2 separate regions of the Homo sapiens genome follow, and region 2 is linked to region 1. Evidence: fine-mapped expression QTL. A gene starts in region 1. The other region holds a variant in brackets. All regions are shown on one strand. Distances are between the middles of the regions. Region 1 holds the start of SPEG (striated muscle enriched protein kinase). Region 2 overlaps SPEG (striated muscle enriched protein kinase).

Region 1 (12,337 bases):
ATTAACAGTTATTGCGTGTTTGGTATGTACCAGGCATTGTGCTAAGCACTCTATGTGAATGAGCTCATTTAATCCTCACGACAAGAGGAAGACTGAGACACAGAGAGGTTACTTGCCCAAGGTCACATGGCCAATAAATTGAGGGAGCCAGAATTCCAACCTAGGCAGATGCATGAGAATCACTTATGCCCAGGAGGCGAGGTTGTAGTGAGCAGAGATCGCACCACTGTACTCCAACCTGGGTGACAGAGCAAGACTCTGCTTTAAATAAATAAATAAATAAATAAATAAATAAATAAATAAATAAAATAAAATAAATACAGGGACAGACTGATGAGTTTTGTTCAGCCTGCACAATGTTTGGGCTGGAGCAATCATGCCTGAGCTCAGCGCACCTCCCTCATTTTCAGTTTCTACTTGACCCCTGCAGTTATTTGAGTCTGTGGCCCCTTTATCTTATTTTAGATTTCTTTATTGTTTTAGAGACTAGGTCTCACTCTGTTGTCCAGGCTAGAGTGCAGCGGTGCCATCATGGCTCACTGCAACCTTGACCACCTGGGCTCAAGAGATTCCCCCCACCTCAGCCCCCCTTGTACCTGAGACTACAGGTGCATGCCATCATGCCCAGCTAATTTTTAAAAAAATATTAAGTAGAGATGAAGTCTTATTATCTTACACAAGCTGGTCTCGAACTCCTGGGCTCAAGCTATTCTCCTGCCTCGGCATTCCAAAATGCTGGGATGATAGGCATGAGCCACCGCACCTGGCTGCTCTTTTATTCTAAAGTTTAGGTCATGTCTTGTACATTCTGGGTGCATACAGGTGTTCTTGTTTCCTAGAGCATCAAAGCAAATTACAAGTACAGACACATGCACAGGGACGTGTGCTGAGAGGGCACATATGTGTGTCCACACTCGTTCCAGCCAGAGGACCCTGGACACCCATGGGCACTTTCCATGTACACCCCTAAACACACCCACTCACAGATGGGGAGCTGAGTGATGAGAGGGGGTAACTTGAGCCCCTGTTCCCCAGGAGAATCCAAGGGGCTGGCACATTCCGTAGCAAAAATAACCAATGGGCAGCGGGCGTGAGTGACGGGACAGCTGGGCCCAGGAGGGGCCGGCAGGATTCTGTGTTCCTGCTCTGGGTCGGCACTGCTCACTCCTGAAGGGCTGGCCTGGAACATGCTCTCTGGGTGGGCCTCCCCAGCTGGCCCCAGATTGCCCCATTTTTCTCCCATAGCTGGGCAGCTGTGTCTCCCTGCCACTCCCCCAAACCCAGACTTCCAATTTCTGCACTGCCAGCATTTCCCTCCAACCAGAGAAAATCCAAATCTCCATCCTATGCCACAAGCTCCCACCCCACCTCCCTTTTGTCTCCTCTTTCCTGCCTCAGTTCAGTTTCTCCCTTCTCTCATTTACGACCCTGCTCTGTATTTCTGACATACTGTGTAATTTACCTATTTACTATGTTTATTGTGTATTGTCTGTCTCCCCTCACTAGAAAGTTATCCCCTGGAGGACATAAATTTTGGTCTCCCTCAACCCCCTGACTCGTGTATCAAAAGCACATAGTAGGCACTCAATAAATATGGGAGGGGGTGGCAGAGCTGCAGGTGGAGAGGGTAAGCAGTGATGGGAACGGGGACAGTAAATCTTCCTGCAACGGCTTCCACTCATCCAGCCTTCCCCCTTCTCTGTCCTAACCCATATTCTGTCCCCAGAGGTCTTTAGCCAGAAAAGTGACCATCTCTCATTCCACTCAGGATTCCCCTGGAGAGGGTCCCAGAGCTCCTCTCTGCTCCCACTCTGGCCTCTCCTCCGCTCACTGGTCAGCACTTGGCATGCATGCATGTTGACACTCCCCATACCCATTCCCAGCTCCATACTACTTTCCACCTGGCTTCTCTAGCCAGACATTCTAAATTCCAGGTGAAAAAGAATAACTGCAGAATATTCCTCAACACAGGTTCTGGTACATTCCTCTACCCTTTCCTTGCCTAAGTTGGCCCTCTCTCCCTATCTCTAAGCTCTCCTCTCCAAGCCTTTGAGTCCCCAGGATGGTTCATTACCATGTTTTGATCTTTGGCCCTTCTGATTAACACCAGAATCTTCCAGACCCTAGCTATGAAGCTCCAACTAACACACCATGTGAGCATCATCAGCTCACCTCTTCTCTCGGCTGTGCCTTCTCCTGCTTCCCCTCTGCCCTTTAGTGCAGGTCTGCTCTTCAGCCACACACGCACACCCACAGCTTTGAGGGTAGCACTTGCTGTGGTCTCTGGATTTGCATGTGGCTCCTCAGCCTGTGCAAGTGGGAGCCTGATATTTTGAAAAAGAAGAATGCCTGCCTATCTTGGAGACTAGGCCAGAGATGGATTTGGAGATATTGACGGAGAAAGATGGTGACGATGACAAATCCTTGACAGTCTTCCCACACTTCTCTTTCTGTGGACAAGCAGTATGGACCCAGACTCAGATACCTGGCTTTCAGACCTGGCTCTGGCACCTCACTAGCCATGGGAACTTAGGTAAATTTCCTCTTTGAACCCCAGTTTTTCTATATGAATAATGGTCATAACAGTAACCTAGGGTTTGGAAGATTAAATAATTAAATGAGACAGGGTACTTACGCATGTTAAGGATTCTACAAGTATCCTGCATTTCTGCTATCTTCACCTCCTTTGTTTCCGATTCTTCCCTCATTTCTACATCCCCCAAATCTCAGCACCACCACCCCCAGTTTCCCATCCTCCAAATTTTCCAGGCTGTAGCCCACTTGCCTTCTCATGACCCCAACTTTCCAGAGCCATGCCCAAATCCTTCCATCCTTGAGCTAACATATCCGGCTTCAGGAGTGCCAGGAACCTAGCATCACTTTGTCTTATTGAGCCAGCAATCCCAGCCAGGAAAGCATGTCCTTCCGTCTGCAGCCAGGTCCTTGCTTGGCTTCCTCGAGTACCCTGAAGTCCTCCTGCTGTTGTTTCCAACCAAGAAAGTTTTCCATGAGTAAGTCTGAGCAATGCCGAGCTGCTTGCCCGGCTGCCCTGGAGCAGGAGCTATCACTGGGCAGGGGCTGGTGGGGGTGGGCAACAGAAGGGATAGGAAGCCAGATTCACCCAGTCAGTCCCCCAGCATCACCAAAGCAAAGCCCCTCCCTCCTCCAAAGCATGTGGGATAGGTGTAATAGTTACACACATGGTTCTTTGCAGTGGGACAGACTGAGGCCTCCACCTGTTCTGCCACCTTCTATCTACACAATCAGGACATGTTCTCAAAGGTTATTTGCTGCAGCCCAGTCCTCTTCCTATTCTCATATGAATGTCAAAGGGCCCCTGATCCAGCCCCACAACACCCAGGGCCCTTTTCTTACCCCAAGCCTCTCAAGCCTGCTGTTCCACCAGAGCAGCCCAGCCTGCACACTGTCAGCCTGGCCTCTGTCTAGGTACGCCCAGCCAGGCTCAGCGCTGCTGACCACACCACCAAGACTGCAGAGAGGCTGAGCAAACAGCCCTGCTGGGGGCTCTCACACCTCATCACCACTTACCACTTTGAGGGACCAAGGCAGGCCAGGAGACATCCATCTTGAGAAATGCCAGGCCTGGGCCAATCATGTGACAGCTACTTTCCCAGTACTCTCCCTCCCTCTCTCGCTCTTTCCTCTCTCTCCAGAACTTCTTGAGGAGTACAAGGCCCCCAGAACCAAAACCAGGAGGACTGGGTTCTTAGTTCTGGGATGGCCATAACTAGCTATGTCTCTAACTAGACTAGTACGTCTTAGGCAGAGCTCCCTGATCTTTGGCCCACAGTGTCCTTGCCTGTGAAAGGATGTGTTTGGAGCTGCAGTTCTCTGTGGTCCTTTCCAACCTTAACTTATATTATGACTGTTACTCTCCTTGTCAGCTCTTTCGTTCCCTTCCCTAATCTCTCCCCCAGTCATATTCTCATCAACTCATCTATCTTACCCTTTGATCTATGTTCTATTTTCAGCCCTCTTTGCCCCTGGGGGGACCAGAGCTGAGATCCCCAAGGAGTCCACACCTTCCCCAGCTCCGAAGTCTGCTAGAATGCACCCCATCCCCTGATCCCAGGCTCGGGAGGCCTGTACTTGTCCAGGTGCTAGGCCAACCAGGAGACGCCAGCCTTGGCCCTCTCTGGCCCAGGCCTGGCCACAGAGACTCCAGGAAGGTGGGCAGAGCAGGGCTGGGGGGAGGAGATGCCGATGGAGGGAGGCCAGCCCGGCTCCCTCTCCTGACTTGGCTGTGTCCTAGAGACTTCTTGCCCACCTGCTGCTGAGGGCTTTCCTCCCTGTGCCTCCTCCCCAGCCTCCAAGGATTTACCCCTACACAGCAGCACCCAGGGGAGTGACATGTCCCTCTTAGAAACGTCCAAGGGAGTGAACCCCCAGCTCCTTGCCATCTCTCCCAGCTGTAGCCTACTTCCTCAGAATTCTGTTTCTCAAGGCGCAGCCTGCCCAAGGCTCTGCCTTTGGCTAGAGAAGTACCACTTGGCTTACTCAAGGACTGAGGAAATCAAAAAGGAAGCCCCCAAATGGATCCAAGGCTAACGGCCCTGGCCTGGCCTCCATGGTAGCCCCAGCTGGACCATGAGCACTGGGCCCAGCCTCTTGCCCTCCCCTTCTGCCTCAGACCCTCAGCCTTTTCTTCACACTGCACCTGGAAATCTATGGGCGGGGGACAAGCACTGGTCCATAGCATCCCCCTTCCATGCTCTGGAAACATCCACTCTGGAAGCTCAGGTAGACATGGTCCAGGAGCTTCCCATTCCAGCTCCACGTGCCCATACCTCACCTGTTTGCACCACCACACAGAATCCAGGGCCCTCCACAGCACCCATGCAGGCACACACCTGCATGTGGATTCTCAAGCACTCACCTCCATTCATGCCCATGGGGCCCTGGCTCGGGCTCCACCTCCTCCTACCCTGGACCCTGTTCACACGTGGCCAACCATAGGCCTCTTCCACACCCCACCTAGAGCTGACCACATCAACCCTGCCACGGCAATGGCCTGCAGGGAGCTCTGAGCCATCCCTTCAACAGTGCAGCCTGGACCAGAGGAGCTGGCCCCCTCCTTCGGACATGGACTCCCCTGTTAAGGAGCTGATCGGAGTGTCAATCTCAAGTTTAAATCATGGAACTGAAGGACACCCTTTCCCCCAGGAGGCTTTTCTCCACAGGAGGAGAAGAACTTCCACCCCAGAATTCCCTGAGAGGTGGGAGTGGGTCTCAGGCTTGGCTTATCAACCGCTTGCTGCCCCTTGACCTCTGACCTTCCTGTGGGGAGCCTCTCTACCTTGACACCCCATTCCCTGCACTTGGCTCTTCGTCTCACTTCTGGGGCCGGGCAGCCGAGAAGCCAGGGCACCTGGGAAGAAGGCGGCGGAACCAGTATCCAGTACCTTACCCGCGTGGCCTGGGCAGCCCTTTTCTACCTCTGAGCACCCCGCCCCTGCCGGGCGCGGCCCCCACCTGCCCTTTACCTCCGACCTCCAGCACTGTGAGCACCGCCTCGCAGGAGGCCCGGCCCCGCTCGTTCTGGGCCATGCAGCTGTACACGCCGGCGTCCTGCGCCCCGCAGCGCCGCAGCCACAGGCAGCTGGGCTCGGGGGCCGGCGCGGGCAGGAGCTGCCCATCCCGGAACCAGCGGAGGCTGGGCTGGGGCGTCCCGCTCACCACCACCCGCAGCCGCACGTCGCTGCCCGCGCACACCGCCGCGTTCTTCAGGGGCCGCAGGAAGACTGGCGCCCCGGCCACGGCCACAGGAGCCCCGCCGCCGGCCCCCACCTTGGCCCTTTTCGGGGGCACTCCGGGGCTGGGGGGTGCCCTCGTGCCCGCATCCTCGCCTCGCGTGCCCCGGGCTTTCTGCATGGCCACTGAGAGCTGGGCTGGGGGGACGCCGGAACTGGGCGGCCACGGGGGCACCCGCGGGACGGTGCCCTAGGAGACAAGTCTGGGGGGCCGGCGGCCTGCCTTCCTGCTGCCCGCCCGCCTTCGGCCTGTGCTACCCAGAAGGTCACCGGGGCGGCCGGCGATTGCGCCTGGGGGCTATTTTTAGGCCCCCCGGCTCGGGTTGCGAGGGAGCCGTGGAGGGAGGGGGCAGCAGGGGAGGGACTTGACTCCACTTGGCTCCTTCTCTCCCTCCAGGAGCCCCCATCGCCGGCCCGGCTTAAGGGAGTCCCTCGGTATTTGTTCCAGGCTTTCCCCTCCGTAGTGTGCCTGGCCCCCACACGACCCACTGCAGGGAGTCAGGTTACCCCTGGGCTCAATCCCATTTCCCTTCCTCCCTCATCTCAGACCCCTCATCCCTGCCCGGCTTCGCTGGGAGGGGAAGAAGAGGAACGGTCCTGGTGAGATGCCTGAGAGGTGGATGGGGAGGCAGGCCCAAGTGGAGGTGAGCAGACAGCTCCGAAGAGGGACCATGGCCTCCCCCAGCGCCTCCATTACAGCTGGCGAACAGTAAGACCAGGAGCCTGGGAGTCAGGTGGATTGGGGCCTCCACTGCGCCCTGCCCTTACTTGCTGGGTGACACCAAACCTCTCTCAACCTCCAAGTCCTCATCTGTAAGAATGGGTGGTGGAATAGGGTTGCAATAGGCAGAAAAGAGTGGGCAGGACATTCCAGGCAGAGGGAACGGCATGAACAAAATGAGCCTGATGAAAACAAAGGCGTCCTGGGAATTAGAGAGGTTTGGAGGGATTGAAGCGTAGTGGGTGGGGTGAGTGGAAGAAGGGAGGTGGGGCCTGGAGAAGGCTTTGTTTGCTAAGGCTTTGGTTTCTCTACCCTGAAAGCAGGGGGCGCCACTACACAGCTTTAAGCGGCAGAAAAAACACGGTGGGAGCTGTGTCTTAGGAGGATCCTCTTGGCGGCCACAAAGTGGAGGATGGATAGAAATGACGGCCAGTTCAAGTAAAGGCCAGATTCCCAGCCTCCTTGCCCCACACTGGTTCAGCAGCTGAGCTGGGAGGAATCTGCACATTTAACAAATGACTCAACTGATTCTGATGTGCCTAAGTGTTGCACGTTGAGAAACATCAAGAGTCCAGATGAGACCTTTGTGATAGAACAGTTCTGTATCTTGGCTGGGCGCGGTGGCTAACACCTGTAATTCCAGCACTTTGGGAGGCCGAGGTGGGTGGATCACTTGAACTCAGGAATTCAACACCAGCCTGGCCAACATGGTGAAACCTGTCTCTACTAAAAATACAAAAAATTAGCCAGGTGTAGTGGCTCATGCCTGTAGTCCCAGCTACTCAGGAGGCTGAGGCAGGAGAATCGCTTGAACCTGGGAGGTGGAGGTTGCAGTGAGCCTAGATGGCACCACTGCACTGCAGCCTGGGCAACAGAGTGAGACTCTGTCTCAAAAAACAAAACAAAACAAAAACAGAACAGTTCTGTATCTTGACAGTGGTAATGGTGGTGGTTATGTGGATCTACACAAGTGATAAAGTTGCATAGAACTAAATGTGCATTTGCACTTGTACGCAACACTAACAGTACATGTAACACTGGTAAAACTTGCAGAAGGTAGGTGGATTATACCAATGCCCCTTTCCTGGTTGTGATGCTGTACTATAGTCATACAAGATGTTACCCTAGGAGGAAACCAAGTGAAGGTAATTCAGGATCTCTCTGCATTATTTCTTATAATTGCCTGTGAATCTACAGTTATCATAAAGTAAAAAATTTTTTAAGAAGTCCAAGTAGGAGACCCAGGCCTGACCTTGAGCCCTGAGGGATGAAACCCAGGAAGGGCTGAGAGGAGCCATGAGTATTCAGAGGCAGAGAATGTTACTCTTACCCTTGCCTCCTCTTCCCCATCCTCATTCTGGGATACTGAAGTCAAAGAGAAAGAGAGAGAGCGCGAGAGACAGTGTGTAAAAGGTATAGGAGGAACCATTTAAACACTGAATTACATCCATAGAGGTTAAGAACCTTGAGGAATAATTTTTTTTACAGTTTGCATACATTAAAGTTTTTTTTTTTTTTGAGACGGAGTTTCACTCTTGTTGCCCAGGCCGGAGTGCAATGGTGTGATCTCGGCTCACCACAACCTCCTCCTCCCGGGTTCGAGCAATTCTCCTGCCTCAGCCTCCCGAGTAGCTGGGATTACAGGCATGCACCACCACACCCAGCTAATTTTGTATTTTTAGTAGAGACGGGGTTTCTCCATTTTGGTCGGGCTGGTCTCGAACTCCCGACCTCAGGTGATCTGCCTGCCTCAGCCTCCTAAAGCACTGGGATTACAGGTGTGAGCCACCGTGCCTGGCCTAAAGTTTATTTTTTTATGAGGTGCAGTTCTCTGGGTTTTGACAAATGCATAGAATCATGTATCTGCCACTCCAGGACCATACAGAGCAAACAATTCCATCACCCCAAATACTAGCTCATGTACCCCCTTCGGAGTCATAGACTCTACCATAGACCCCCTCCACCAACCTCTGGCAACCACTGATGATGAATCGAATTCTAAAGTGTAAATTGAATTCTAGAAGGTGACAATATGGGGGAAGTCATTGCAAACAGATGGTACATCAAGAAAAAAGGAATAGAGAGTATTTCGAAAAACAAATAACCCAAAGCCACCCAACACTGTGCCTCTAAATGTGTGTGGAATGCAGTGGGTAGACTGTAAATGTTGGCTGGTTAGTAAGTTGGTTGAATAAATGAACGATGCGATCTCAAGCAAGTTACCTAGCATCTCTAAGCCTCGGTTTCCTCATCTATAGAATGGAGGTAGCACAACTCAGGGTTTTAATTATTTATTCATCCATAATTTTTTTATTTATTCATCCACAAATATTTTTGAGTTTCTACTATGTACTGGCACTGTGCTAGGGACTAGGGATATAGCAGTGAACAGACAAAGATTTCTGCTCCCATGCTGCTTTTACTTGAGAAGAGAGATGAACAACAAATACAAAGAAATAGGCTGCGCACGGTGGCTCACGCCTGTAATCCCAGCACTTTGGGAGGCTGAGGCAGGAGGATCACCTGAGGTCAGAAGTTCAAGACCAGCCTGGCCAACATGGTGAAACCTCATCTCTACTAAAAATACAAAAATTAGCCAGGCCTGGTGGCACACACCTGTAATCTCAGCTACTTGGGAGGCTAAAGCAGGAGAATTGCTTGAACCCGGGTGGCAGAGGTTGCAGTGAGCCGAGATGGCACCACTGCACTCCAACCTGGGCAACAGAGTGAGACTCCATCTCAATAAGAAAGAAAGATAAGAAAGAGAAAGGAAGGAAGGAAGGAAGGAAGGAAGGAAGGAAGGAAGGAAGGAAGGAAGGAAGGAAGGAAAAGAAAGAACCTGTAAAGATTGTTACAAGGAGGTAAGCACTGTGGACAAAGCTTAAGGCAAATGTGAGTGTGGTGGGAGATTGCACTTTCAAATAGGGTGTGGCTGGAGTTGGCCCCACTGGGAACATTTGAGCCAATCTTGAGTAAGAAAGCAAATGATGCAAATGTCTGGGGAGGGCTGCTTCTGGCAGAGGTGGGAATATGCCTGGTGGGCTCCAAGACGAAGGCCAGAGAGGATGGAGGGAGCAAGGGGAGAGTGGAAGGAAATGGGTCAGACAGGCAGCAGAAGCCAGATGGCCTAGAATTTTGCAGGCCATGGCGCTTTTGTTCCTGGTGAAATGAGAAGTCATCTTAGGGCTTTGAGCAGAAGAATTACATGATCTGACTTACGTTGTAGTAATGACATTAAATTATTATATTAAATATTCAAATGAAGATTAACTATTTAAAAGGGCCTGGCACAGAGCCTGGAACATGACTTGCCTTCTGCCTTCCTAGATCCATAATTGGGGCATTCGTTGATTTGCGTGCAGGAGTCTGTGGGCCTGGGTAGGGAGGGCACAAGTCCATGCAAGTCACTGGTGCCCTCTTCTGGGAGGAGCCCACACTAGCTGTGACAGCTGGAAGCCGTCAGGCTCTGGCCAGGCCAGGCCAGGCACTTGGGACAGCTGGCTGCAAGTCACTCGTCTGTCCCTCAGCATGGGCCCCACAGTGCCCTGCAGCCTGGCGCCTAGCTGGGTGTGTGTGCTGCCAGTCTGCCCTGTCTTGCGATCACAAGCCTCTGGTGTCATGGAAAGAGATCTGAGCTCCAGAGGCCAGGGAGCCTGGAGCCCAGTCCTCCTTTGCTACAGACTGCTGTGTGACCTTTGCAGGTCACCCTACCTCTCTGGAGGTGCCACTGGGCACTTCTTAAGCCATAATGATGTACCACATGCCTGGCACATGGGAAAAATCTCAGTAAGTGTTCATTGAATCAGTGAATAAAGTGGGGGCCATCAGCCCTTCCTGGTGAATATTTAATTTAGAGAAAAGTAAGTAAAAGTGCGCAGTAGGTATTCATTCATTAAGTATTTAAATATTTAATGAGTACCTACTATTCTTCCAGGCATTCTTCTGGGCACTTGGGATACAATAGTGAATAAAATGGATTAAAATTCTACCCTTAGGTAGCTGACGTTTTAGGTGTTAAATCGAAGGTTATTGAAGCATTTGCAGATGTGCCTTGGGTGAGCTTGTGGTGAGAGGAAGGAGGGAGGGGGTGAATGAGTAGAATAGGACAGGGGCCTCAAGGGACGGGGGTGAAAATATACCTGGAGTGGACAGACAGGCAGGAAAATGTCTGCTGATCCATCAGTCCTGGCATATGGTGCCTGCCTCCATGATCCCTTCCATTACACCCTGTCTGCTGGGGTCAGAGCTGGTCTGGGCCTGATCCTTTGGGTCCGGTGGGAAGCCGATCAGCATTCTATGAGCCCTGTTACTTCTTGATGTTCAGAGTCTTGAAGGTTAAGACCCCAGAGCCCAAGGAGCAGGAAGAGGCTTTGCCGTGGAGGTGTTTTTTTTTTTTTTTTTTTTGAGACAGAGTCTCCCTCTGTTGCCCAGGCTGGAGTGCAGTGGCGCGATCTCGGCTCACTGCAAGCTCCGCCTCCCGGGTTCATGCCATTCTCCTGCCTCAGCCTCCTGAGTAGCTGGGACTACAGGCACCCACCACCACGCCCGGCTAATTTTTTTTTTTTTTTTTTTTTGTATTTTCAGTAGAGAGGGGTTTCACTGTGTTAGCCAGGCTGGTCTTGAACTCCTGACCTTGTGATCCACACGCCTCAGCCTCCCAAAGTGCTGGGATTACAGGTGTGAGCCACCGTGCCCCGCCCCTGTTGTTGGGTTTTTGTTTTGTTTTGTAGAGATCGGGTCTTGCAGTTTCCCAGGCTGGTCTCAAACTCCTGGGCTCAAGTGATCCTCCCACCTTGGCCTCCCAAAGTGCTGGGATTATAGATGTGAGCCACTGCAGCCGGTGGAAACCCAAATCTGTTTTGGTTTGTATTTGCCCATTCTCTGGGTTCCCTTGGTCACAGCTCAGCTCTTATGAAGAGAGGCAAAGATTAGAACCAGAATTTCTAGTTCCAGGCAGGCTGTGCTCAAAGAATCCTTCCCCACCTGGGGGATAGAGGGTGGCTCTGGGCCTTCTTTCTTCTCTGGGGACAAGTGGGTAGCAGTCACAGGAGACAGGTGTGCTGAGAAGGAAGAGCTTTATTTCAGAACTGTCCCCAGCTGGAAGGGGCCACCAAAGAAGCGGTGAGTTCTCGGGCTCTGGAGACATTCAGGCAGAGTTTGAGGAATGCTCATGAAGGATGTGGGGCAGGGCTGAGAAGGGGGTTTCTGCACCTCAAGGATCATTGCCTGGGAGCCTTCTGAGGTCTGACTCTGAGAGCCTGAGATTCCTACATTCCTTCCACCTTAGTGACTAGTCTATACCTAAGCATTTGGTGGGCTGGGGGGTGGGAGGGGAACTGCCTCCAAAACCTCCCCTAACCCATGTGTCCCTTTATCCTTTGTGGGACAGATAAGTGCACATAACTCATTCAGGGGAAAGAAGGATTCCAGAAACTACTCACAGATATACACACCCCCTCTAATCCACCTGAGCCCAGCCCTGTCCAGGTGTTTCCAACACAGAGAAGCTGGCTCAGACTCCAGGGCCCCCAACAGACTCAAGGATAAGAAGCCCCTTACCCATCCCTCCTCCTCCATCCCAGTACAAAGACATTGGAAATGGGACTTTCAATTTCATTTCCTGTGAGGGTCATTGTGGAGTTTCTCTACAGGTTGACTGGGGTAGTTCTGGGGCCTGTAGGGTTCACCCTATTTGAGGACTGAGGGGAATGAAATGACCATGAGTCACCAGTGGCAGAGGGAGGGGACATGGGGCTACACCCCAGGTCCTCCTGGGGCAAAGCTGAAGAATAAAACAGAGAAGGGGACTTCTTAGAGAGAGGGGTGACTTGTGAGCCAGGGCCAC
Region 2 (12,337 bases), 30 kb before region 1:
AGAACCTCACACACAGTAAGTACCAAATACATTCTATGATATATTACAAGAGTTGCCTGCTCTGTGCCCAGCCTATACCAGGTACCTGACATGCTTTCCCCCTCGTGAATCCTTGCAACAACTCTACAAAATTATCCCCATTTTACCAATGAGGTCAGAGATATTGACTTGTTCAAGGTCCCACGGCTAATAAATGATAGTTTGACCTTGGTACCATGTGATTCCAAAGCTCTTTCCCTACTCCCTGCTCCCTGGATGATAAGGAGGCTGTCTCTGGCGAAGACACAGAGAGGAGGCCTGCACTGTCCTCCTTCATGTCAGGGCTGTCCCTAGACACCCTTCCCTTCTCTTTGCAGTTATCTCTGCATAGAACAGTCACCCATTCATTTATCTCTGCTGACACTATTTATAAGAGAAGAGAAGCCAAGGGCTGCCAGTGACCCCAGATACAGGCAGAAGCGGAGACGCCAGCTTAGATCCTGAGACAGACACTCACCCAGGGCCTCAGAGCAGACTGGGAGACAGGGAGGCCTGCTGCTGAGAATGACAGTCATGGGAGGCTGTGGGCAGGGGTTGGAGCCGGGGTGGCATCACTGGAGATGGGCAGGCGGGTGGGCAGGGAGGATGCAGCATGGGTGACAGGGACATCCTGGTTAAGAGCTGGGCACCAGGGTCAGACAGTCCTTTCTTGCCTCTTGGCAGCTTCCTGTATCTCTCTAAGCCTCAGTTTCCCCATCTGTAAATGGGGCTAATAGTATCCGCCTTATAGGCCTGTGGCAAGGTAAGATGGTCCTTGTCATACCTTTAGCTCTCAGGACCTGGCACTTAGAAAGCACTTAATGAAAGTGATCTTTGTCATGTTGCAGCCATAAGAGGAAATCATCGTGGGTCAAAGAGTGGGCACTGTCTTATGGGAGGGGGGCAGACCTTCTCACACAAGACTCAGATTCCTTCAAGGATGGAACTGAGATGCTCCCATAAGAAAGTATCCCAGGCTAAGAGGACACCAACCCAAATACGTTCCTCTGTGTCTCCCCTGGCCCCTTCTTCGTTATTTGCTATTTGTTAGCAACCCTGGACAGAGCATCCCTTCCATGCCAGACACTGCCCACACCTGCTTTTTCATTGCAATGTCTCCAGGAAGTACCACCGCTGATGATAATGGCTACTAAAACAAGAATACTGAGACTTCACACCTCCCAGCTGCTTGCCAGGTGCCAGGCCCTGCTCTGGGGCTTATATGCATTAACTGATTTAGTCTCGTAACAACCCAATTACAGATGAGAAACTGAGGCACAGAGGGCTTCTGTAACTTGCTCATGGGCCCGATGCGGGTTAGTAGCAGGCAGTACTGCCTGCCCAGTCAGTGCTAACGGGCACTGAGGGGTGACTCAGCAGATGAGTGCTGTGTGGGCTTGCAGGGGAGGCAATGACCTCACAGTCCCTCCGGGTTCCCTTCCCCCAGGCACCCTGTCCCTGGTCAGGCTACAGAGGAAAGGCCTGGGGAGAGCTGGGGAGAGGGGCAGGGCATTGCAAGCCAAGTGGGTGCTGCAGGGGACACTCCCGGGGAACTTCCCAGACACGTACACTGTGTCATGCGCCGGTCGTCGCTGCTCTGGATGCGGTGGCCATTGTGGAACCAGCTGATGGTGGGGTAGGGCAGGCCGGTCACCTGGCACTCTAGCATGGCCTCCTTGGCCAGTCCCACCTCCAGGTCCTGCAGTGGCCGCAGGAAGTCAGGAATGGACAGCCGCTCCAGCTCACCCTGCTCTGGCTCCTCGGGAATGGATGGCATCTTCTCCAGCTTCGAGCTGCAAGACCACACAGCTGCCCACAGGCCCAGGGCCGTGCCTCCCACCCCAGGGCTGGGCTGGCCCCTCACAGGCAGCCCCAGCATCATTTGGGGCCCCGGTGGTACCTGGGGCCTGAGGCGGCTGTCCGGGGCTCTTCTACATACAGCTGGGCTGAGCAGTGGGCCTGGCCATGGGTGTTAACAGCACTGACCGCATAGAGCCCCTCGTCCTCGCTGCCCACATGGGCAATGTGCAGTGAGTGCAGACCCCCGTCCTGCCGCAGCCGCAAGTTCTCACTCTCCTCCATGGGGCAGCCTGCAGAAAGGAGGGGTGGGAATGCAGAGCAGGCACAGTGAGGGGCCCTGCCCTCTGGGTGCACCCCATCGCCGCCTGGGCCCTTGGGGGGGCCCTCAACACCTGCAGCACAGGGGCCGTACCAAAATGAGTCCAGGTAACAACAGGGGGCGGGGTGCCACTGATCTTGCAGTCGAAACGGGCAGCTCGGCCCTCCAACACCTCCACATCTTCCAGCAGCCGTGTGAACAGGGGTGCCAACGAGGGCCGCACGGTCAGCCGGGCACTGCAGGTCAGCTCATCTGTGGGGCAGGGGGCAGCTCAGAGATAGGGAAGGCTAAGGAGGCCCAGGCATCCCAACCCACCACTCCTGACCTAAGGCTGAGCAGGAAGCTGGAGCCTGGGCAGAGCCCAGCAAAGGCTCTGGGTACTCAGGGGAGGAAGTGGGCACAGATCCAGAGACTAGACCTCGAGAGGGTGGAGGTCAGCAAGGGTGGGTGCAGACTGCCATGGTGGGCTGGGGACTCCATAGGAGCCCAGGGCCTGAGCCCAGGGCCTGGCCCCAGCTCCCCCCTCCTCCCCTCACCCTGCCCACCCTGGATGAAGCACAGCCCAGCTCTGATAGGGTCCTAGAAGCCAAGCCCACCCCTCCTCCATCTACTTCTCAGAATTCTCCTCTGTGCTGGGGTCATGCCCATGCTCCTAGCCACCTTCCCCAGACCCAGAGCAGATGCCCCTTGGCCCCACCTACCAACCCTCAAAGAAGCTTCTGGAGGAGATAAGGGTCCCTTATGTTGACCCGATGCACCCTCCTGCTTCTAAAGCCCCTCCAGCTTCCGCTTAGGTCTTCATCACCCACAACGTAGCAAGGCAGGTGCCATAATCTCTGCCCTTCCATGTGGGCAGGCCCAGGTCAGAGATAGCATCAGTGGTAACAATGGCTGGCATTTATTAGGCAGGTGTGCCATTTGAAACCCATTTCTGGAATGCTCAGTGCCCTACCCTCTCCTGGAAAGGCCCTTTGACAGGCCCTGTGCTTTGTTCTTCACATAAACTATCTCATTAATCCTGCCAATCCCTCTACAGAGGAGGAATGATCACCATCCCTGTTCTACAGATGAACAGGCTAAAGCTCAGAGAGATGAAGTGACTTGTTCAAAGTTATATGGCTGGTGACTTGCAGGGCAGGCGTGGGAACCCACGTTCACCTCAGCAGATGCACTCCCTCCTAGGAACAGTTAACCCTGTTGCGGCCTTTCCTTTGTGCTATGCACTATTCTAAGTGCTTATTTTATTGAGGCCAAGGCAATGTACTAGCTCCCACCCTCCCCCGCTTCCCCTCGGGGTTGGAGCTCTGTTTCCCAGGCATCTTACTGTACACCCCCAGTCCCCTCCCTCCAGCTCTTGGGCACCCACGGCAGCCCAATGCCTGAGTGGGGAGTTACCTTTGGCCGTGCTGAGCTTGCAGGTGTAGACGCCACTGTCGTCCTCATGTACAGATGTAAGTAGCAGCTTGCATTTGCGGCCATCGAAATGCATCTTGCATTTGAGCAGTGCAGGCTGCAGCAGGCGGCCACGGCACAGCCAATCCACCTCCACGTCAGTGGGCCCCGCCACCAGGCACTCAAACAGCGCCATCTCCCCGGCCCCCACGTCCACGTCCTGCAGGGGGGCCAGCACGGCCAGGGACCGGCTTTCAGGGTGTGCTGAGGGGAAAGCAGCCACGGGGGCCACGCACAGAGCAGAGACACACAGGGTGAGGGAGACACACATACGCACGCACAGAGAGACAGACAGACACAGAGAGAGAGATGCATTTTGTTCTCTGGAGATGGGGAAAGCCCACCCACCTGGCCAGGACAGCAAGGCATGCCCAGACCTGGCTTTGAGATGGCAATCCAAGCTGGGCCAGGGAGGGTGATTCATGGAGGCAAGAGGGAACTGAGGGAGGGGAAACTGAGAGGGCCACGTGGTGGCAGAGACATCGGCGGGGGAAAAAAAAACACAACACACCAGATAGGTACAAACTGGACTTTATTTGAGTTAAGAAATAGGTGTTTCCAAATTTCTCCACGCTCACTACAGTGGCCCCCTGCCCCTGCTCCTGCACCAAACTTGGTTAACTCCCTCATTCCCAGACAGAGCACCCCAGCCCTGACAGAGAAGGAGGGGGCCCCAAATGGGCCCTAAACCTGCCAGGGCCAGGGCTCAGCCAGGCTGTTCATCAGCACAGAGCCTGGGGCCTCTGGCTTTTGGTCTTTTGTGAAATAGAAAGTGTTGTGCCATTCGAAACCCATTTCTAGAATGGTCAGTGTCCTAACCCTTCCTGGTAAGGCCTTTGTCAACAGCCCCTGCTCCTTGGGCCCCTCCATGCCATGCCGTAATCTCTCCCACTCTGTCTCACCCCACCTCAGCTCCGAGGCATCCTTCCCTGACTGTCACAGACACACAGACAGACAAACAGATAGACAGGCCTGTAGCAGCAGTAGCACATGCACTCGCCCGGTGCTCCCCTTCAGGGAGAGACTCGGGGGGTTGATACCCCTCGCAGCCGCCCCTTCCCAGCACTCAGTCCATCTGTGGGCCTCCTGGCCTGCACAGCCATGTGTCCACTTGGGGAGGGAGGGTCCACAGGGGCCCATGGGCTATCCCCCTGGGGGCTGCATGGGGTGGGGAGGGGAGGCTGGGACGGGTCCGGGCCGGCAGGCCTGGGTCTGTGGGCAGGAGGCAGTGAAACACAGCGAGGTCCGAGAGGTGCCTGAGACAGGGGCGCGGCTCGGAGGGTAGCGGGGGGAGC[A/G]CAGGTGGCCCCCTGAGCTCACTCGCCTGTGTACAGACAAAAACCTCAGTCAGCAAGCGGCAGGTTAGTGCAGCATACGCGCACGCACGCGCACACACACACATGCACACACACGCATGCACACGCACACATGCACGCACACGTGCACGCACACGCGCGCACACACACACGCATGCACACACCCATACGCACACATGCACACGCACGCACACACGCACACACATGCACACACATGCATGCACATACACGCACGCATGCGCACGCACACGCACACATGCACGCACAGGCACGCAGACCTGGCTAGGGCCCTTCTGCATAGAGGGCTGCCTCTCACACCGTCAGGGCAGCACTGCCACTCTTGGCTCCCCCAAGGACAGCTCTGGGCTGCGAGGGCCGGCAGCTAGCCAGAGACTGGTTCCTCGGGGTTCCTGGGCAGGCAGAGACCCCGGGCAACCAGGCATTCATGGGATCAGGAGCACCCCAAAGCCTGGGGGTGTCGGAAGGAATCCCCAAGAGAAAGAAGCACCAAGACATGGGTTAATACAGAGAAGCGAGGCAGAGCCAGGCCCTGGAGAGAAAGCAGGCCGGGGAGGAGGGCTGAAGAATCTGGAGACCAAGGAAGTGGCAACTACAGGAACGGCAGGCACAGAGGAGGGGAACTGAGGCAGGGGGGCCAGCAGAGGGACCATGACTGTCAGGGTCTGAGCTCTGAGCCTTGGGGAAGGTCAGGGGCTGGGGGCTGAGTGAGAAGCGAGGAGAGGAAGCGAGGAGCCATTGAGGCGAAGGGTGAGGTGGAAGGCAAGATAAACGGTTGTGGCCTTTGGGGAGGAAAACCCATGGCCCTCGAGGGCCCCCTAGCCAGGGCCTGGCATTTCTGCTGCCTGAGAGGGCCCCTGCACATATGCCCCAGGCTCTGGGGGCCCAGGCCTCTTCACACGTCACAGCTGTGCTCACCCTGGCACCCTAGGGTCCCTGTGATGCTCCAAGCCTAAGCCACCCCAAGGGCCCCTCCGAACGGGTCCAGCCACCAGACTCTCCCCACCGCTACCTCACAGTAGCTTCTGCACAGCAATGGGATGGGAGGGTGGGCAAAGGGGCGAGAGGAGAGGGGGAGGGGGATGAGGGAGGGTCCTGGGCAGAGCAGGGTGACAAAGGCTCAGAAGAGTGTAGAGAGAGCTTGGCCAGTGGCAGGTGCAGGGTCTCTGGCTGCCGCCAGGGCTCCGTGATGGAGCAACAGGGAAGGTGGTGTTGTGTAGTAAGCTGAGCACGGAACAATGTGCTGTGCAGCTTTGGGCAGGTCACTTCCTGTCTCTGGGCTTTGGTTCACTCAACAATAATATAAGCAGCTGGACTAGGGGCCCCTTAAGGCCCTTTCAGTGGTGGCATCCTCTAACTGAGGCTGTGTGAGAGCAGACAGTGGGGGAAGGAAGGGGCCAGGGCCAGGTGGGCATTCATGGAGAAATCAGGTACTCACCTCGGACCTCCAAGCGGGCCTCGCACTGCCGAGCACCATACTCATTGACCGCTTTGCAAGTGTAGAAACCAGCATCGCCACGCTCTGCAGCCAGGATCCGCAGCCGGCACAGCCCACCCTCAGCCTCCTCCGCAAAGCGCCGCTGGTCTGGGCGCACGGGCTGGCGGTTTCTCAGCCTGTCAGAGGGGCAAGAACTCAGTCCCAGGGCCCAGGGGCCTGATGTGCGTGCACAGGAACTGGGGCTGCAGCACTGTGCAGGCCTCTCCTTCCCTGTGCAGTTTGCCCAGTCCCCAGATCTGTCCCACTGACCGTGGGCATCCCTGGTTTCCAGGGCTAGGTTTTTACCCCCACTCTGCCATCCCACCCACCTCTAGGAGCTTCCAGGTCACTTCTAACTGCCTGCAGCTCTCCCTTCTCGGAACCCTGCTGCATTCAGAGTGGAGCCGTGCTATTTAGCTCTTTTTTCTTGTCTTTTTTTTTTTTTTTTAAACAGGGTTTCCCTCTGTCACCCAGGCTGGAGTGCAGTGGCACAATCACAGCTCACTGCAGCTTCTACCTCCCCAGGCTCAAGCGATCTCCCCATCTCAGCCTCCTGAGTAGCTGGGACTACAGGCACACGCCACCATGCCCAGCTAATTTTTGTATTTTTTGTAGATACAGGGTTTCACCATGTTGTCCACGCTGGTCTTGAACTTCTGGGCTCAAATGATCCTCCTCTCTTGGCTTCCCAAAGTGCTGGGATTACAGACATTGAGCCCTCATGCCTGACCCTATTTAGCTCTTAATAATTCTTAAACTTCCCCATGTCTTATTTTTATTTATTTATAATGGACAGATAGCTTTCCCACTTCCCAAAAGGGATATGAAAAAACTTACAATGTTAAAAAAAAAAATCACAGTGGGGGCTGGGCACGGTGGTTCATGCCTGTAATCCCAGCACTTTGGGAGGCCGAGGTGGGTGGATCACCTGAGGTCAGGAGTTCGAGACCAGCCTGACCAGAAACCCTGCCTCTACAAAAAATACAAAATTAGCTGGGTGTGGTGGCACATGCCTGTAATCCCAGCTACTCAGGAGGCTGAGGCAGGAGAATCCCTTGAACCCAGGAGGCGGAGGTTGCAGTGAGCCCAGATCGCACCACTGCACTCCAGCCTGGGCGACAAAGAGTGAAACTCCAGCTAAAAAAAAAAAAAAAAAAAAAAAAAAAAAAAAAAAAAATCACAGTGGGGACCAGACAATCAATTAAAAATGAAAAACAGAATTCAAACCATAAAAAATTAGCAAGCTGAGTAATCCATCTTCCAGGCACCTGGGATGAGCGAGGCCCCTCTGCTTAGACCCACATTTAACTCGGGGCTGCTGGCAGCTCAGAAACAAATTGTTGCATGTCTTTTTTTTTTCAGCAATAGGGTCTTGCTATATTGTCCAGGCTGGAGTGCAGTGGTATGATCATAGCTCACTGCAACCTCAAACTCCTGGGCTCCAGTGATCCTCCTCCTCACCCTCATAAGTAGCTGGGTCTACAGGCATGTACTACCACGTCCAGCTAATTTAAAAAAAGTTTTTGTAGAGACAGAGTCTCACTATGTTGCCCAAGCTGGTCTTCAACTCCTTGGCTCAAGCAATCCTCCTTCCTTGGCCTCTGAAATGTCTTGCTCCTTGCTAATTTTGGGAAGGGGGTATTTTTATTTTTGAGACAGGGTCTCACTCTGTCACCCAGGCTGGAGTGCAATGGTGTGATCTCAGCTCACTACAGCTTCCACCTCCCAGGGTCAAGTAATCTTCTTGCCTCAGCCTCCCAAGTAGCTGGGATTACAAGCATGCACCACCACATCTGGCTAATTTTTTTGTATTTTTAGTAGAGACAGGGCTTCGCCATGCTGGCCAGGCTGGTCTCAAACTCCTGGCCTCAAGTGATCCATTCGCCTCACCTCTCAAAATGCTGGGATTACAGGCGTGAGCCACCGCACCCAGTCATTTATCCCAAATGGACAGACATGAGACCCAAACCCCTCCCCAGAAGGGGAAGCCCTAAATAAGCCTGGAACATGGGGCAAGGGACAGGGTGCCGGGGGGAGTACACTGCTGTCCCTGAGATGAGGCCCCTGAGGCAGATCATGGGGAAGCCCACCAAGATTCCATTTCCTTCCACCCAAAGCCAGACCTCCCAGAGCCAGGCCTGGCATAGAGTCGCTGGTGGGTGGTGGAAAGTGCGGCTACTCACCAGGAGACCACAGGCTTGGGCTCCCCCTGCACGCGGATGCTCATGATGACATCTTGGCCTTCTCTTACTGACTGGTCCATAAGTGAGACCTGAAGGGGGTACCCCAAAGTGTCAGGGGAAGACAGGGCAGAGCCTTGGGTCCTGGGGGCTGTGGAATCTGAGACGGAGGACTCTTCCACAGCCAGGCTGAGACTGGCTCTGGGTAAGAGGGTTTGAATGGGAGCAAAGTTCCAGGTCTTGATGTTGCCTAGGCATGGCCCCAAGAACAAGGGGGCACCCAAAGGAACGGGGGCACACAGGAGGCTAGGCCCCAGCCTCAGGGGTCTGACCTTGAAGGTGGGGGGTGCCTTGGAGCCAGTGTCAGAAGAACGGCGGTTCTGGCTGGGACTGGGCTTCATGGTGGGGGTTCGCGGCCAGGTCTCCCCAGGCTCTGGGAACTCCTCTGGGGGGCTCAGGTATTCCTCGTCGGAGGTGATGGGGCTGCTGAAAGGGGATGTAGACCCACCTGGAGAGAGACAGAGATAGCTACCAGGGAGGAAGGCGAGCAGAGAGCCTGGGAGAGCTGGCTGGAATGTCGCCCAGAGCCCAGGAGTTGCGGCAGCTCCCCGCAGGCCGGCCCTGCCCTGACTTCACCCCCAGGCTCCTGCGACCTCGCCCAGCTTCTTCCCCTCCCTGAGCCCCTGGAACCTCCTCTGCCACTGGCTCTGCCAACACCGACCCTGCTGATCCTCCCAGGAGGGGACACCATAGGGAAAGGCCTGGGGCAAAGGGTTCGGGCAGCAGAGGGGCCACTCCTGGGCCTGGTGGGAGAATTCCACTGGAGCAGGGCACCCACATTCCTGACATGGACTAGAGACCTAAACTACCAACTGCAGGCTCCAAAAGCAGGGGAAGCAGGTCTATGGAACCCTGGAGCAGCATGGCTAGGACGCCCATTTCTTGGGTGAGCTGGGCCTGGTGCAGAGGAACACACACCGCAGACAAGTCACATCCCGACCTCGGTCCAGGGCCAATGAGGCGGCACTATCTAGCCTGCCCCTCCCCCTTTCCCTTCTCAGCTTCCTGCCGTGCAAACCCCAGGGGCACCTGTTGGCCACAGCCCTACAGCTTGCACCCCCAAACGCTCGAGGGATAGGAAAGCAGAGCTGGAGTCATCCACCAAAAAGGGCAGCTCAGCCTGGGGGAAGAGGAGGGGGGCACCAGAGTCAGCCTTGGGGGAGGGGTGTCCCCAGGGCCCTGACGCCCTCCCCTGCAACTGGCCAGGGTCCCAGTCTCGCTGAGCTGGCTCCTATCCGACTGCCAAATACAGACATGAAACTGCCACAGCCCCCTAGGTTCTCCCCAGGGTCCCCCCACCCCAAGCCCCCAGCAGGGCTGTACCCCAACTCACCCCGAGGCTCTGCACACAGACCCCAGCCTGTGCCTGTCCTGAAGGCTCTGCCCTGGCACCAGGCCCTCCTGCTGCCTGCCCACTGCCCACCCCAGCGTGGCTCCCCAGGGAGCAGGAGCCCAGCCTGTCCAGCCTGCCCAGCCCCACTCACTCGGCTGACCCAGCTGAGGCCCTGCACGGAGAAGGCCCTGGGGGAGGGGAAGGCGCCTGAGGAGGGGAAGGAGGAGGTTGGATGGCAGGCCGGCAGGCAGCTGGCTAGGAAGGTGGTGCCTGCCGAGACCACAGGCAGCCTGGGCCCTGGTGTGGAGGGGGAGGAGAGGGGAGAGGGGAGGGAGGGCGGAGCGCGGCCGTCTGGATTTAGCCACTCTGCTCACTCCCAAGCCGCGGGATCTGCCTTTCTTCTCCTTACAGCTTCAGACCCTGACAAGAGCAAAGCCCGCTCTGCGGTGCCTTGACTCAAGGTGTGGGGCCTCCGTCCCCGAGCAAGACAGGGGAGGGGTGGCACTGCGCTGTGCCAATAGGGACACTTGCCCTGACCCATTTGTTCTGACACGTCCACCAAAGAAGGTGCCCGTGGGAAATGTTCCCTGTGTTGCCCCTTGCTCTGACGGAACCACCAAGATCCCTGACCGGGGAATGCGCTAACGAGCCTCAAATACTACAGAGCCAGGGCATACCTGTTTTCTTTGGCCCCGAAAATCGGAGAACTGTCAAGATCTTTGCCCTCCTTCACAGAGGTGGGGGAAGAATCTGAGGGGGCCCAGAATCCCACCTCTGCCCCCTCATCCCTGCCATGGAAGGTCTGGCCAGCAGCCACCACAGGGCCTAAGCCCACATCCAGCCTTCCTACCCAAACCGCCAGGGCACCTGTTGGCAACTTGCCCGCCACCCACCTTAGCCCCGCTAAAGAGGACAGCGGGGGCTGCCTCCCCCAAATGGCCCCTTATCATGAGAACCCATTTGTATCTGGGATGGGGAAAGGGTTTGGACACAGAACCTGAGAGAAGGGGGCTGTTGAGCAGGGGTCACATGTCCTTCTCCCTCTTCCTATCACCTCACCCCGCAACCCGGGGCCACATTCCCAAGCCATGACCTGTGTTTCCCAGCATGGCCAGTAAGGAAGGAGGGCTGGGGGCCGGGCAGAGGAGGGGCCCACGGTTCAGGCTGGCTGTCTTGAGGTAGGGTTGGGGAGGGAAGTCAGAATGGCATTTGGTGCTTAAGGCATTTGATGCTGAGATCACAGGCATGGCTCCGCAGGTGGGCGGTCCTACCCCTCTATGGAGCCTGGAGTCCTGCCCCAGGGTCACCTCCAGGCTGGACAGTACTGAGGAGGCTCACGGGCCCAGGGACTGGGAACGGAAGCAGAGCTGAAGGCCAGATGGTCAAGGTTTGCAGGGAGCCTCAGAGACCCCTGGTGGTGCCCAGGGGAACAGCATGCTGGAGGGCATCTAGCCATGAAGCAGACCCCCATCCTCAAGCCCCTTGGAGAGACAGACTGTCAGAGCAGCCCAGGCCTCTTCCAGACAAGGCAGTAGCCTCTGCCCCTCCATACCTCCAAAAGTGAGTGACCAAGGAAGCTGATCGAGGATTCCTGAGGCTCCATACCAGAATCCGGTGCCACCTAGTTTTTTCCCTGGCCACATAGCAAAAACCATCTTTGGAACCAGTCCCTGACATCCCAGCCCTGCTGCACCCACAAGCCCAACTCTCACTGTGGCAAACACAGTTACACCAGCCAGGAAGGAGGGGGCAGGTGCCCCCCTAAACCTAATAGGCACATACACTCAATGGCCCCGAACAACCCACCACGGAAGTACCGCCCCTTCACACTGGCTCCCAATCCCCCACGCTGACCCCATGCTCATGTCTGCCCTTTCAACATCACTCTCAGGTCAAACTCATTTGATGAAAATACTGGCGTTAGGAAGCACACAGGGAACTCCCTCTCCTCAGACCAGCACATCCACCGACCCCAACTGTTTCAGCGTCCCCTGATGTGTTCTCACAATAGACAGAGTTGCAGCCACCACTGCGAATTATCTAGTACATAAAAGGTGTCGCACACAGCCCTTTGCTTCAGGGCTTCTCAGAATGTTACTTGACCTACTCACATCAGGACCACCTCGGGCTTATTTAAAATATAGATTCCTCAACCTTACTCCAGCCTGCAGAATTAGATTTTCTGAAATGAGATGTCAGGAAACTGCATTTTAAAAAGCACCCCAGATGACTCTTAGGCACATGAAAGCTTAGGGACCACTGCTGATCTTTATGGGAGGAGGACAGCCCTAAGAGGTGGTATCACTAAGCCCCCTTCACTGGGCCATTCAACCTCAGAGCAGAGCTTTGAACCTAGGAGGTTTGGCT

What was found. PIP is the estimated chance that this variant, and not a neighbour inherited with it, causes the effect.
Region 2: its variant is fine-mapped to the expression of SPEG in whole blood (TOPMed, PIP 0.92).

Annotation. Positions count from the first base shown.
Region 1 is chr2:219,428,533-219,440,869 of GRCh38, reverse strand. It overlaps SPEG (striated muscle enriched protein kinase), which reads right to left and starts at 6,027. Exons shown (of 41, transcript NM_005876.5): 1 at 5,505-6,027. The coding sequence starts at 5,892. RefSeq lists an enhancer at 8,631-11,720.
Region 2 is chr2:219,458,630-219,470,966 of GRCh38, reverse strand. It overlaps SPEG (striated muscle enriched protein kinase), which reads right to left. Exons shown (of 41, transcript NM_005876.5): 7 at 8,910-9,085; 8 at 8,581-8,669; 9 at 6,359-6,534; 10 at 3,533-3,793; 11 at 2,231-2,389; 12 at 1,919-2,108; 13 at 1,588-1,811. Among named protein-coding and RNA genes, the nearest start is that of SPEG, 30 kb to the right of the region's middle. RefSeq lists enhancers at 3,705-4,247, 4,495-5,160, 5,161-5,828 and a silencer at 10,105-10,285. The variant A/G (reference allele first, on the strand shown) is at 4,885.